2 linked regions of the Homo sapiens genome follow. The protein of the gene in region 2 binds, or shares a complex with, the protein of the main gene of each other region. Each region holds a gene or a part of one and is shown on either strand. Other genes may lie near its edges.

The links.
Region 1: the proteins of TJP1 (region 2) and GJC1 are in contact, whole or in part, in a crystal structure (PDB 3SHW), measured with the Homo sapiens proteins. Residues at the interface, in NP_003248.3 of Homo sapiens: Lys429, Ser432, Val433, Gly434, Leu435, Arg436, Leu437, Gly449, Val450, Leu451, Val484, Leu487, Leu488, Leu549, Asn551, Gly552, Lys553; in NP_001073852.1 of Homo sapiens: Lys391, Thr392, Ser393, Val394, Trp395, Ile396.

Annotation. Positions count from the first base shown.
Region 1 is NC_000017.11:44,827,091-44,835,275, forward strand, and holds the start of GJC1 (gap junction gamma-1 protein), read right to left. Parts: upstream 3,198-8,185; 5' UTR 2,972-3,197; intron 2,735-2,971; exon of another isoform or gene 2,422-2,734; intron 1-2,421. UniProt on the Homo sapiens protein: One gap junction consists of a cluster of closely packed pairs of transmembrane channels, the connexons, through which materials of low MW diffuse from one cell to a neighboring cell.
Region 2 is NC_000015.10:29,700,214-29,707,481, reverse strand, and holds part of TJP1 (tight junction protein 1), read left to right. Parts: intron 1-1,736; coding exon 1,737-1,954; intron 1,955-3,176; coding exon 3,177-3,320; intron 3,321-5,792; coding exon 5,793-5,887; 3' UTR 5,888-7,268. UniProt on the Homo sapiens protein: TJP1, TJP2, and TJP3 are closely related scaffolding proteins that link tight junction (TJ) transmembrane proteins such as claudins, junctional adhesion molecules, and occludin to the actin cytoskeleton.

The sequences.
Region 1 (8,185 bases), on a different chromosome or scaffold from region 2:
CCTAATGTCAAGAGTTGGAGACCAGCCTGACCAACATGGTGAAACCCCGTCTCTACTAAAAAATACAAAATTAGCTGGGCATGGTGGGGCATTCCTGTAATCCCAGCTACTTGGGAGGCTGAGGCATGAGAATCACTTGAACTCGGGAGGCGGAGGTTGCAGTGAGACAAGATAGCACCGTTGCAGTGAGACAAGATAGCACCATTGCACTCCAGCCTGGGCAATAAGAGCTAAACTCCGTCTCAAAAACAAACAAACAAAAAAAAAAAATTCCTGCTTTTTCTTTGCCTAAATTTTTATCAAATATTTTGAACAGAAGCCACATGTATTTCTACACTACAAGAAAAGCATAAGTTCAGAAATAAGTAATCATACCCCCTAGTCAAACTTAACTATAGGAAGGAAGGACAGGACAGGACAGGAAAGGAGGAGAAAAAAGAAATTAGCTGGGTATACTCAGGAGGCTGAGGCAGGAGGATGGCTTGAGCCCAGGAATTTGAGGCTGCAGTGTACTATGACAGCCTGGGCATCATAGCAATGTCTTTGAAAAAAAAAAGGATGGCCGGGCACGGTGGCTCACGCCTGTAATCCCAGCACTCTGGGAGGCCGAGGCGGGAGGATCACAAGGTCAGGAGATCGGGACCATCATGGCTAACATGGTGAAACCCCATCTCTGCTAAAACTACAAAAAAAAATTAGCCAGGCGTGGTGGCGGGTACCTGTAGTCCCAGCCACTGCACTCTAGCCTGGGCGACAGAGCAAGACTCCATCTCAAAAAAAAAAGGAAAAGGAAAAAGAAAAAAGAACACACCTCACCAATTTTGAAATGTGAACATACAACAAATAAAGCAATATTTTTTGGAACTCATCACTTTGCATTGAATTAGGCATGGAACAAACACTAAGCATTTGTTAAGAGAACGATGCTCTGGATTTAAATTATATATCCTGTATTCTAAGATCCTCATTACTCAATTGATAGGCAAGCCTGGACCTGGGGGGAAGTGGACTAATCAGAAACACAACCCTGCATTCCTTCCCTTTGGCTGACTTATACAAATATAAGAATAAAATTTAATTGACAAAGGATAACAGCATTTATAAGTAAGATTGTTATGCTGGAGATATGTTAATTAAGTCCTCTGGATTAAAGGCTAAAACTCAATTTTACCTGCATGAATTGATTACAGAGAAAATTACCAGGTCCTTTGCTCCTTTTTAAGAGAACTGTGGTAGAACTTTTTAAGAGAACTGTTTCTGGTAGAAAACAATTCTTAAGTCACACAACCTCAAAAGTTAAAAGTGCTGGCTTTTGAAGAGGTTGTTTGAAATGCTTTGGAAAAATGCACAACAGTTTAAGTAGTAAATAATATTAAGCCATTACAAATCAGGACAAATATTAACAGACCTTCCATACAACTTCTATGTATCTCTTCAATATGCCCTTTGCCTACAGCACTCTGGGCACAAAAATCTGGGGAAAACTAAGATCTGTTTATTGGAGCTTTTTACCTTCTACCCAGAAAAGTTAGTTCGTGTTTAATTCTGACATTACACAGTACTTAAGACATTCAAAGCAACTGCAGTGATACAACTCTATGCTAAGTTTTTTTTAAATCAGTAAACTTAACCCACAACTCACAATATTTTAATCAGGAGCTCTGGAAGTAAGGGTATTTTTCTGTTTTTTTCCATACCCTCTGAGGTTGAAATTTTTTTGCTCTTTTACTCTGAATAATACCTAAACCCTCTCTAGGGAGAGAAATATTTTATTCCTAAATGACATTATTAACGCATTTTTCTACAGATATTAAAGTACTGGAGATATGCTGTTTCCTGCTTATCAGGAAATTAAAATCCCTTTCATTTATGTAGTTTGATTTTTTATAGCGCTTTCACATATATTCACTTGAACGTATACACGACACAAACATATAACAAATTTAGACTTATCAGGCATACAAGATGACCCTCAGCCTGAACTTATTCAAACTTAACTTACTCGATTTCACATCGTCTTGATGCTAACAAAATTAAGCATGAGCATAATGAAATCGGTATCACTGCCAGTTCTCAATGAACAAAAAGAAAACCAAATTCGCCCATTTCGCAAAGGAAAAGTACTCCCAATCAGACAATCGCAAAAAAAAGAACAAAATCTAAACCATACATTCACGTACATCTTTTCAACTCAGAGCTCCAAACGCAGCCGCCAACCACACAACTGCCCACAATCACAGCGGTAGCGCCTACTCTTAATTTTGAAGCTAGAGACTTAAGGAAACACACACACACACAAAACAGTTCTCAAGTTTGACAAAGTGGGGGAAAAGTCATTTTAAGTAAAGACAACGAGTTAATCAGGAGGCGATGAGCCCAGTCCTTCCGCCCCGCTTTCCCGCTTCCAGCCCTCGAACGAACCCTCCTCTAACCCCCGGGAGGCAGGAGTTCCAGCGGGGAGATGCGGGAAGCCTCAGACGAGCCCGCACGCCGCCGGAGACGCAGGGATCGAGGTCGGGGAGACAAAGAGCAGCCCGCGAAGAGCCCGGGCGGCGAGGGGCGGCCCGGCTCCGCCCTGCGCCCCTAACCGCCCGGGTAGTTGTCGGCACCGCCGGGGCGCCGCCGAGTGCGCGCCGCTTCTGTCCGGGCTCCCCGACCGTCGCCCGACACCTCCGCGGCCCAGGACACCCCCGAGCCGTTTCCCTCCCGATTTGGGAGCCGCGCGCCTGGGGACAAAGAGGGAGGGTGCGCCGGGGACAGTGGCAGGACGCGGGCCGGCGACGCCCCTCCGGACTCGGCGGGAACCCCTCGGCGGCGCCCCCCTCCTTCTCCCGCTCTGGCCGCGCTCCTCCCCGGACCTCCGGAGGTTCTCCTCGGCCCCTCCCCGGGCTCCCCAAGAGTTCTCCCGCCTCCCCCTGGGACCCCGCCCCTGGCCCGCTTCTCCTCAGCCGGCCCTGCGGCCGCCCCTCACCCGGCGGCGGGTTCCCCCGGAGCCGCCTCCTCCGCCGGGCCTCGGCCCGTCCCGCCGGTCGCGGCCTCATGTGCCCCGCGTCGCCATCGCCTTCACCCTCGCCTCTCCTCCACCTCCTCCGCCGCTGCCGCCTTCGCCTCAGTCTCCAGCCGAGGCAGAAGCCGCTCCCGCCGCTGCCGCCGCCGCCGCCGCCTCCCGCTCCCGCCGCCGCGACCCGCGGGAAGGCGCCTGCGCACTGCGCGCTGCGGTGGGGGCGGGGGCGTCCCGCCGCGGCCCGGGAGCGGGGGGCGCGCGGCACGTGGCGCTCGAGTGGGAGGGGGGCGCCCCAGAACGCGCGGGAAGCGACGCGAGCGCCAACTTTCCGCGGTCGAGTCCTCGCCGCTCTCTCGGATAGTCCGGGACGCGGCGGAGGCGCGGCGCGCGTGGGAGTCACCCGCGTGGAGTCTGGACCCCGGGTGGGCGCAGACTTCGCTCCGGACAGTTCATTCTTCCAAGCTGATTTTCGGGCGAGAGTCCCCCGCCAGCCGCGCCTCAGTTTGAGCGGGCCGCTAACGGCGCCGTGGGTTCTCGCCTTACCTGGGTATCCTGGGTTGGTTTAGCGGGCCCAGAGTTGTCTTCTGCGCGCTCCGCCGAGGCCTTGGTCCATTGTAGCACGGGATGCTAATGTCTCCTCCCAGGTTCTGCTCTACAATTCCTCGAGGATCTGGCGGGCCCTGCGTGGATCTAGCTAGAGTCGGGGCTCTTAGCAGTGCTCTAGATACTTTTCAGGTCCTGAACTTCTCGGATTAGCAAGACCCTAATAGGCTATTTCCTCTTAACTCTTTGCATCCCAGCAGGATCCCATTCAGAGGACTTGGGAAAAATTTTCATGCATAGGAATCCCCAGTTTTAAAATGCCCAGTAGGAAACCGAAAATTCTCCAAATGCTTTAAGTAGAGTAAGACTTTGGGTAATAAAGGAAGGCTCAGTAAAGAGATGGGCGACCTCTGGAATGATCTCATCTGAGCATCAGAATGCCGATGGACAGGCTTTTATTATTTTGCCCTTTTGACCAGAGGGGAAATTAAGCGCTAACAAGTGAGGTTACTTGCTGCAAGTCAAACTCCCCCACCCAAAGCCAAGCCCTAAGGGGTAGCCCCAGAGTGGAAATCTTGAAGGCTAGGCATCTAATGCACTGACCAGTTTTGTGTGGCCAGTATGTTTTCCAAAAATATGAATTAGTTACCAAAATATTAAAATCCAGATTTCTGGCCTCCCTAAAAAGTCAAAAGCTGCTTACTTTGAGCTTCTCTTTTCACATGGCAGCTCCTCTTGAGTCACCTTGTCCGGGTAGGCAATGTCCCCACTCAGCTGCTTAAATCATTTCATGACCTGCTTGGCCTCGGAGCATTTAAGTACTTCTCCCTGTGATTGCTGTAGTCTGTCCCCACGCCTTATCACATTGCCTCTCTACAGATGTATTTAAAATGACAAGTGTGGGATGGGCGCGGTGGCTCACGCCTGTAATTCCAGCACTTTGGGAGGCCTAGGCAGGCGGATTGCTTGAGCCCTGGGGTTCCAGACCAGCCTGGACAATATGGCAAAACCCCCATCTCTACAAAAAATACAAAAATTAGCCGGGTGTGGTGACGCGCACCTGTGATCCTAGCTACTCCAAGCATGAGGTGGGAGGATCGCTTGAGCCCGGGAGGTCAAGGCTGCAGTAAGCTGAGATAGCGCCACTGCACTCCAGCCTGAGCGACAGAGTGAGACCCTGTCTCAAAAAAATAAGTGAAAAAAATAAAATGACCAGGGTGAAAACTCTGAAAATACCTGGAAATAATAAATAGCATGTAACTAAAATAACACAGGAAACAACATCATTGTACCTGTTGAATAAAATATTAAAATTCTCACAGCCTGCAACTGTAAACTAGTACAAATAACTTTTTTGTTTTGTTTTGTTTTGAGGGAGAGTCTCACTCTGTCGCCAGGCTGGAGTGCAGTGGGCGCCATCTAGGCTCACTGCAAGCTCCACCTCCCCGGTTCAAGCAATTCTCCTGCCTCAGCCTCCCGAGTAGCTGGGACTACAGGCGCACGCAACCACGCCCAACTAATTTTTGTATTTTTAGTAGAGACAGGGTTTCACCATGTTGGCCAGGATGGTCTCGATCTCCTGACCTTGTGATCCGCCTGCCTCGGCCTCCCAAAGTGCTGGGATTACAGGCATGAGCCACCGTGCCTGGCCTAAATCACTTTGTTGTTGTTTTTGCAACAGAGTCTCACTCTGTCGCCCACGCTGGAGTGCAGTGGGGTGATCTCGGCTCACTGCGATGTCCGCCTCCCAGGTTCAAAAGATTCTACTACCTCAGCCTCCGGAGTAGCTGGGAATACAGGTGCCCGCCATCATGCCTGGCTAATTTTTGTATTTTTAGTAGAAAGGGGGTTTCACCATGTTGGCCAGGCTGGTCTCAAATCCTGACCTCAAGTGATCTGCCCGCCTTGGCCTCCCAAAGAGCTGGGATTACAGACATGAGCCACCGTGCCCAGCGGACTTTGCAAAACTGGCAATATCTACTGTTGAGGCTCAGAAAATGATTTCCCAGGGCGTGGTGGCTGTAGTCCCAGCTACTCAGGAAACTGCAGTGGGCTATGATTATGCCACTACACTCCAGCCTGGAAGACAGAGCGAGACCCCATCTCTTTAAAAAAGAAAGAAAGAAAACAATATCCCAAAGTATGGAGCTTTGGCGTGCTGAGTGCTTTGAACTAAAGGAGATTGGAAGGCCTCAGAAGCAAAGTCTCTCTCTGACCTTCTCCTGCCCTCCTGTCTCCCGCCCCTTTCTCCCCTGAAGCGAGTCATAGAAATAAAAATTCCTCTTCCCCAAGGCGGGTCATAGAAACTAGAACCCCTCTCCCCCAAAGCAAGCCATAAAACCAGAAAGGTCACTCTCCCCCTTCTCTCCTCCCCCTTGAAGACCCTCATTCCAGAGGAACCAGGAAGGAATACCCTGGAGGAAGGAATGTTACACTGGGAAGCCAAGAAGAATTTGAACCGACAAGCCTTGTTGGGTTCCCCGCTCAGTCTGTTAAATTAGATCATACCCCTTTTGTCTGATCACATTCTGCTTGTCCATTCTGCATTGAACCTAAGCATAAAAACAATTGTTCTAGGGTATTGAGGGTGTGTGTGTGTGTGTGTGTGTGTGTGTGTGAGAGAGAGAGAGAGAGAGACCGGGTCTCTCTCCATCACCCAGGCTGGAGTGCAGTGGCATGATCTCGGCTCACTGCAACCTCCGCCTCCCAGGTTCAACTGATTCTCATGCCTCAGCCTCCCAAGCAGCTGGGACTACAGGCGCACACCACCACGCCCGGCTAATTTTTTTTGTATTTTTAGTAGAGACTGGTTTTCACTATGTTGGTGAGGCTGGTCTTGAACTCCTGACCTCGTGATCCACCCGCCTAGGCCTCCCAAAGTGCTGGGATTACAGGTGTGAGCCACCGCACTCGGCCCTTTGAGGTCTTAATTTCCGAAGTCTCTTGTGTTACATAAAACTTTGGTTAAATAACTTGGTTATGCCCTTCTCTTGTTAATCTGGGTTTTGTTATAGGAGTGTCAGCTGTGATCCTTATGATGGATGAGGAAAGGTGTCACACCTTTCCGCCACTACACTACTAAAGCTGAACCTATGAATACACTATGCCTTTGGAATTCCATGGCAATTCCACGAAAATGTGTACAAATGTTCACCAAAATACTTGTACTAGAGTATTCATAGCAGCACTATTTATAATAAGTCAAAAAACTAGAAACTACCCAAAATGCCTGTCAACCGTAGAATGGCTAAATTGTGTTACGTACATTATGCTGCAATGAAAATGAACAATCTACATTTACACATAAGATGGATCTCACAAAAGTTTTCATTTACAAAAACTTCAAAAACAGACAAAACTGGCCAGGTGCTGTGGCTCATGCCTGTTATCCCAGCGCTTAGGGAGGCCAAGGTGGGCGGATCACTTGAGCTCAGTAGTTCAAGACCAGCCTTAGCAACATGGCAAAACCTTACCTCTACAAAAAATACAAAAATTAGCCAGGCATGGTTGCATGTGCCTGGAGTCTCAGCTACTCCAGAGGCTGAGGTGGTGAGGTGGGAAGATCACTTGAGCTGGGGAAGTTGAGGCTGCAGTGAGCTGTGATTGTGCCACTGAACCACTGCACCACTGCACTCCAGCCTGGGTTACAGAGCAAGACCGCGTTTAAAAAAAAACAAAACAACAACAACAAAAAAAAAAAACAAGCAAAACTAATCCATGCCGTTAGAAGTAGGGACAGTTGGCCAGGCGCGGTGGCTCACGCCTGTAATCCCAGCACTCTGGGAGGCCGAGGGGAGCAGATCACCTAAGGTCAGGAGTTCAAGACCAGCCTGGCTAACATGGTGAAAACCCATTTCTACTAAAAATACAAAAAATTAGATGGGTGTGGTGGCGCATGCCTGTAATCCCAGCTACTCAGGAGGCTGAGGCAGGAGAATTGCTTGAACCTGGGAGGCAGAGGTTGCAGTGAGCTGAGATCATGCCATTGCACTGCAGCTTGGGGCAACAAGAGCAAAACTCAAAAAAAAAAAAAAAAGAAGTAGTAAGGTGCAGTGGCTCACGCCTGTAATCCCAGCACTAAACCCCGTCTCTACTAAAAATACAAAAATTAGCTGGGCGTGGTGGCGCATGCCTGTAATCCCAGCTACTCCGGAGGCTGAGACGAGAATTGCTTGAACCAGGGAGTTGGAGGTTACAGTGAGTGGAGATTGTGCCACTGCACTCCAGCCTGGGTATAGAGCAAGGCTCCGTCTCAAAAAAAGAAGAAGTAAGGCCAGTGGGCTGGGCACAGTGGCTCACGCCTATGATCCCAGCACTTTGGGAGGGTGAGGCAGGTGGATCACCTGAGGTCAGAAGTTTGAGACCAGCCTGGCTAACATGGTGAAACCCCATTTCTACTAAAAATACAAAAAATTAGCTGGGCGTGGTGGTGTGAGCCTGTAATCCCTGCTACTTGGGAGGCTGAGTTGGAGGTTGCAGTGAGCCGAGATTGCGCCACTGCACTCCAGCCTGGGGACAGAGCAAGACTTGGTCTCAAAAAAAAAATTAGAAGGATAGTGGGCTGGGCACAGTGCCTCACACCTGTAATCCCAGCATTTTGGGAGGATGAGGCAGGTGGATCACCTGAGGTCAGGAGTT
Region 2 (7,268 bases):
TCCTAGCTCTGCACATCCACAGATGGTCAGGGGCGGACAGAGCTGGCCTCTGCTCTGCAGCTCAGGCTGCGCTCTGCTCCCTTGATGTTGTGTCGTAGGATGTCGTCCCTGGCACTCCGGTCATGCTGGAGTGAAACGGCAGCTACCTTCATGTAATTCTGTTTCGTTGGTCTTTCTGCTCACCTTTGAGCCCTGGCTCAAAACTGTACTTTCAGGAAGTTGATAGCCTCTACTTTTGAAGCAGTCATTGATACCACATCCCCTTTGCCTTTGGCGTTCTGTGATTACTAAGTTAATCTACTGTCTCTCTTTCGTGGATGTTTGGGATATGCCCATACAAGGGTCTTCGCCTCATGGAACCTTGGAAGCCTTGCCTCCTACAGCCAGAGCGGGCGCTTGGTCCTCAGGGAATGCTGAGGCAGGACCATACTCAGGCACACTTAAAATCCTAGGGAGATTTTATCAAGTCTGAGATGCTGTCAGCCGTGAGATGCACCATTGTTTTGTGTCACTAAAAATGGAAGAACAGCCAGGCACGGTGGCTCATGCCTCTAATCCCAGCACTTTCGGAGGTTGAGGCGGGCGGATCACTGGAAGTCAGGAGTTCCATCCTGGCCAACACGGTGAAAACCCATGTCTACTAAAAATACAAAAATTAGCCGGGCATGGTGGCAGACGCCTGTAATCCTAGCTACTCAGAAGCTGAGGCAGGAAAATTGCTTGAACCTGGGAGGTGGAGGTTGCAGTGAGCCAAGATTGCACCGCTGTACTCTAGCCTGGGTGACAGCAAGACACTCCATTTCAAAAAACAACAGGAAGGGAAGAACAGGGCTACCAATTAAATTGTGACTTACCAGTTTTAAAGTTCCAATTTCATGGATTTTAAAATGTGCTTCATAAAACTCTGTACCTGTTTAGTATCCCTTGTCCAAACTTCTTGGGTTCTGAAGTGTCTCATATCTTGGGTTTTTTTGGATTTTGGAATATTGCCAAAATGCTCCAATGAGCATTTCCTTTGAGCTTCATTTTGACACTCAAAAAAAAGTTTCCGATTTTGGAGCATTTCAGATTTTCAGGTTAGGGATGCTTCACCTGTAGTTGGGTGTTCAAGGCATCAGATTTTACACTTTCAGGTTGCAATTCATTAATGAAGGTCGTTTGACTAATTGCCTTCAAAAATTGAATTTTTGACATTTCTCTAGAATTTTTGAAATTTTCTAGAATGGAATTTCTCTAGAAATAATATTCTCGCCAGGCGCGGTGGCTCACGCCTGTAACCTCAGCACTTTGGGAGACCAAGGCAGGTGGATCACGACGAGATCAGGAGTTTGAGACCAGCCCGGCCAATATGGTGAAACCCCATCTCTACTAAAAATACAAAAATTAGCCAGGCTTGGTGGCGTGCGCCTGTAGTCCCAGCTACATGGGAGGCTGAGGCAGAAAAATCACTTGAACCTGGGAGATGGAGGTTGCAGTGAACCAAGATTGTGCCACTGCACTCCAGCCTGGGCGACAGAGTGAGACTCTGTCTCAAAACCAAACAAACAAACAAAAAAGAAATAATATTCTCTGCGATAACCCTGTCAGTAAAATCTGTTGCCAGAAACTTATCTTGTTAAAGTAACTTCTTGATTATATGGAGAAATAAAAGTGAAAGCACGTAATACAGTAGTAGTAAAAGCAAAGCACCTGTGTATTATTAGGAATTCACTCACTAGCCATTTCTGAACTTTCAGTCCTTCAGCTGTGGAAGAGGATGAAGATGAAGATGGTCATACTGTGGTGGCCACAGCCCGAGGCATATTTAACAGCAATGGGGGCGTGCTGAGTTCCATAGAAACTGGTGTTAGTATAATTATCCCTCAAGGAGCCATTCCCGAAGGAGTTGAGCAGGAAATCTATTTCAAGGTCTGCCGGGACAACAGCATCCTTCCACCTTTAGATAAAGAGAAAGGTAAATGTGTTTATTTTTCTCCTTAGTTTTGATAACTTAAGAGTTGCCCTGTGTGCACTTCAGAGCTTATAGTGCTTGGCTAATAATGCAGCACCTCTCTATCTCCAGATGAGTGCTGTAGCGAGGGGTGCCCTGGGGACGGTGTTGCAAGCAAGCAGTGGGTGGCCTGAAGCAAGGCTGTGGTGACCACACTGCCTGCTTTTACTTTTGGTGTGAAATAAAAAATGATGGCATAGGACAGGCCACGGGATGTCTCACCTGCTGAGCAGCCTAGGCTGACCTAACCAAATTTGTCTTTGAATCAGTCAGCCTTTGCGTCTCTGGAGATGGGTTAGGTAACACCCACTCAGAAAGGCTTTGCTGTGCCTTCACCTGATTGGAGAACCTAAACCTCTTGACAGGTACTGTCTTATTCATCACCCCAGAACCTAGCACTAGTACATGCTCAGCAGAGTGCATGAAGGAGTCTCAGAGGAGATGACAGCATGTTTCTGAGCTTCTTAAGGAAACTTATTTTCATAATCCTCCTGGATCTACCAGGATATTATAACGAAGTGTGTTGTGATTTAGCATCTTTTAGCAGTGCTTTTACTTCCTAAACAAATTTAGTTCGCTTTTTTGTATTTTGCCGGAATACTGACATCTGATTCTGTACTCTGATTTTGGGGATATCCTGTTTTAAAAACCAGTAGGACTGACTGTGTTGGCCCTGCATGAATCTCTTTAACCACCTATGGAGCAAACAAAACATTTTGAAAATGGAAAATATATCACATTCGCAACAAGCACATTTGAATATGTTTTTTATTATAGACCCATATGATTGAATGCAGTAGCCACTGCCTGCACGTGGCTAGCTAGCACTTGAAGTGTGACAATTTGGGATTGAAAGATGCTGGAAATGTGAAATACACACCAAGTTCCAAAGATTTCATATATTGATTACATGTTGAAATAACAGTGTTTTCGTTATATTGAGTTAAAATATTAAAATATTGTAAGATTTGATATCACTTGTTTCTTTTTACTTTCTAACGTGGCTACTGGGAAATTTAAGATTCCATATGTGGCTGCTGTTACGTTTTTTTGTGGTCAGTGCGACTGTAGAGAACTAACTCCATTAGGCTTTCAAGCATATAATTAGAAGCAGGGTGAGGAAAACTGGGATTCTAGAAGAAAGACCACATCCATCCTCTCTGCCTATCCCCTTTTCCAACTCCAGGTGAAACACTGCTGAGTCCTTTGGTGATGTGTGGTCCCCATGGCCTCAAGTTCCTGAAGCCTGTGGAGCTGCGCTTACCACACTGTGCGTCCATGACTCCTGACGGTTGGTCTTTTGCTCTAAAATCATCCGACTCCTCGTCGGGTATGCTGTCTTCACTCTGTCCTTTGGGAGCTTTGGGGACTGTCGTTGATTAATACCTGGGCTGATGATGCTGCCCATGCTGTGTGTTAGCAAATCTCTATCTCTGTTCCTGTGGCCTTGTAGGCATCACCAGTGTTTTCACATTTATTTGTGGTGCATATATTGTAAATAAATATGGAAAGGTAGAAGACTTTCTGCCTTTTAAAAATTGATAATTTGGGCCGGGCGCCGTGGCTCATGCCTGTAATCGCAGCACTTTGGGAGGCTGAGGCAAGTGGATTACCTGAGGTCAGGAGTTCAAGACCAGCCTGACCAACATGGTGAAACCCCATCTCTACTAAAAATACAAAAATTAGCCAGGCGTGGTGGCACACACCTGTAATCCCAGCTACTCGGGAGGCTGAGGCAGGAGAATTGCTTGAGCCAGGGAGGCGGAGATTGCAGTGAGCCAAGATCGTGCCACTGCACTCCAGCCTGGGCAACAGAGCGAGACCGTCTCAAAAAAATTTTTTTTTGATAATATGGCCAAATATTGACTATTTCTTGGTGTTCAGAAAAATGATTTATTCTGTCAAATTTTTCAGGATGCAGTGGGAGATATTGTCCTGCACAAATAGGCATTTTTACCTTATTAAAATGACTTTGTTCCTTTATATAACTATTTCTATTTTTGGTTACTATTGTTTAATTTATTTTTTGTTTGTTTGTTTTGATTTGGTTTTTTGAGGTGGAGTCTCGCTCTGTCGCCCAGGCTGGAATGCGGTGGCACGATCTCAGCTCACTGCAACCTTCGCCTCCCAGCTTCAAGCGATTCTCCTGCCTCAGCCTCGATTACAGGTGCCCACCACCATGCCTGGCTAATTTTTGTACTTTTAGTAGAGACGGGGTTTCACCATGTTGGCCAGGCTGGTTCGAACTCCTGACTTAAAGTGATCCACCCGCCTCGGCCTCCCAGAGTGCTGGGATTACAGGTGTGAGCCACCGTGCCTGGCCTGTTTAATTTCTTAATCTACAACGTATGTATACCAGAGAAACTTAACAAGATCTTCCGTTGTGATCATACTTGGCCATGGTTTTTCAGTGTAATACTCTAAATTACTTCTTTTATACACTATTTGTAAATGACTTTTTCTCCTGAGATAATTTCAAAGCTTCCACTGCATTTTCACATTTCTCACTTCCTTGAGTGACTTAAGTCAGTTAATAATTAGAATTTTATTTTGGGTGTAGATCACTTTAAGCGAACCTGATTTAAAGTCTAGCTTCCAAATCTTTGATAAATCAGATGAGCATTATTTAGTTTTAGTTTGGTACAGTATGAAATAAAAGTTTGTGGTCTAAAGATTATAGCAAGAGCATATTTTAATGTTATCAGAGGAAAAAATTACATGTAAATACATATTTCCTCATATTTACAAGTACCCCATTTTCTGGAAAAATGAAATGCTTTTGGCTCCAGATATTGCTTAGGTAATGTCTAACGTACTGTAAGCAAAGTTCTCAGCTGGCACTGTTGACATTTTGGCCAAATGATTGTTGTAGGGCCCTCCTGTTCGTCGTGGAATATTTAGCAGCTTCCCTGGGCCTCTACCCCTAGATGCCAGTGGTAACAAGCAAAACTGTCTCCAGATGTCCCATCAGGGGCAGGGTCATTCCTGTTTGAGAGCTACTTCTGTAAGGGAAGCAAACGTCCACAGCTGTGACTCTCAGCTTGCTTGGACACCACAGAGACATATAGTCGTCCCTGCCTTCACATCTAATAGAAATCACCAAGAGCTTATTAAAAACTTAAATCCTGAGACCTAACTAACACCCAGTCAATGAGTTTTTGAAGCTGCATGATTAATTTTGTTGTCCAGCTGGAATCAGAGCTGAGCAGCTCTGGTGCAGTCTCGTTTTTTTGCTTGTTTTTTGTAAGGGGGAAGACAGTCTTCAAGAACTAGATTCTGCAGAACTGGGCTTCATTTGTTGGTTTATAGTTGAGTGTGAGAAATGTGTCCTCATTCTCAGCTCAAATAGGTGATCACATAATTATCCTCCAGACTTTCGAAACTGGAAAAAAAAAAAAAGTGCTACTGATAATTATGTGGGCTCTGGCAAACTGGGACTGTCCCAGGCATAAGATTGCCATCACTCACTTGTATTCATTTTTTGAAAAGGCCAATGCACTTGATAATGTAATAAAGGAGAAGTCTGAAAATTAAAAACAAAAAACAAAAAACTGTTCTTAATGGTGTGAGTTAGAAAGAACGTTTTAAAAAAAATTTTTTTAGAAGTGTGAAACACCTTTGGAATTGTTAGATGCCAGCAGATCTGCTTTGAAATACAGCAATGTGTTTTGATACAAATTCAATATGCTGAAGAAACAGAAGAAAATTATGTCTAAATATACGTATTTGCCCTATAATTGCAAAGCATTACGGATAGCAGTTTACTGAACTGTAAATGACATCAACTTCTTTTCTCTCATAGGTGATCCTAAAACCTGGCAAAACAAGTGTCTTCCCGGAGATCCAAATTATCTCGTTGGAGCAAACTGTGTTTCTGTCCTTATTGACCACTTTTAACTCTTGAAATATAGGAACTTAAATAATGTGAAACTGGATTAAACTTAATCTAAATGGAACCACTCTATCAAGTATTATACCTTTTTTAGAGTTGATACTACAGTTTGTTAGTATGAGGCATTTGTTTGAACTGATAAAGATGAGTGAGCATGCCCCTGAACCATGGTCGGAAAACATGCTACACACTGCATGTTTGTGATTGACGGGACTGTTGGTATTGGCTAGAGGTTCAAAGATATTTTGCTTTGTGATTTTTGTAATTTTTTTATCGTCACTGCTTAACTTCACATATTGATTTCCGTTAAAATACCAGCCAGTAAATGGGGGTGCATTTGAGGTCTGTTCTTTCCAAAGTACACTGTTTCAAACTTTACTATGGCCCTGGCCTAGCATACGTACACATTTTATTTTATTATGCATGAAGTAATATGCACACATTTTTTAAATGCACCTGGAATATATAACCAGTGTTGTGGATTTAACAGAAATGTACAGCAAGGAGATTTACAACTGGGGGAGGGTGAAGTGAAGACAATGACTTACTGTACATGAAAACACATTTTTCTTAGGGAAGGATACAAAAGCATGTGAGACTGGTTCCATGGCCTCTTCAGATCTCTAACTTCACCATATTACCACAGACATACTAACCAGCAGAAATGCCTTACCCTCATGTTCTTAATTCTTAGCTCATTCTCCTTGTGTTACTAAGTTTTTATGGCTTTTGTGCATTATCTAGATACTGTATCATGACAAAGACTGAGTACGTTGTGCATTTGGTGGTTTCAGAAATGTGTTATCACCCAGAAGAAAATAGTGGTGTGATTTGGGGATATTTTTTTCTTTTCTTTTCTTTTCTTTTTTTTTTTTTTTGACAAGGGGCAGTGGTGGTTTTCTGTTCTTTCTGGCTATGCATTTGAAAATTTTGATGTTTTAAGGATGCTTGTACATAATGCGTGCATACCACTTTTGTTCTTGGTTTGTAAATTAACTTTTATAAACTTTACCTTTTTTATACATAAACAAGACCACGTTTCTAAAGGCTACCTTTGTATTCTCTCCTGTACCTCTTGAGCCTTGAACTTTGACCTCTGCAGCAATAAAGCAGCGTTTCTATGACACATGCAAGGTCATTTTTTTTAAGAAAAAGGATGCACAGAGTTGTTACATTTTTAAGTGCTGCATTTAAAAGATACAGTTACTCAGAATTCTCTAGTTTGATTAAATTCTTGCAAAGTATCCCTACTGTAATTTGTGATACAATGCTGTGCCCTAAAGTGTATTTTTTTACTAATAGACAATTTATTATGGCACATCAGCACGATTTCTGTTTAGATAATACACCACTACATTCTGTTAATCATTAGGTGTGACTGAATTT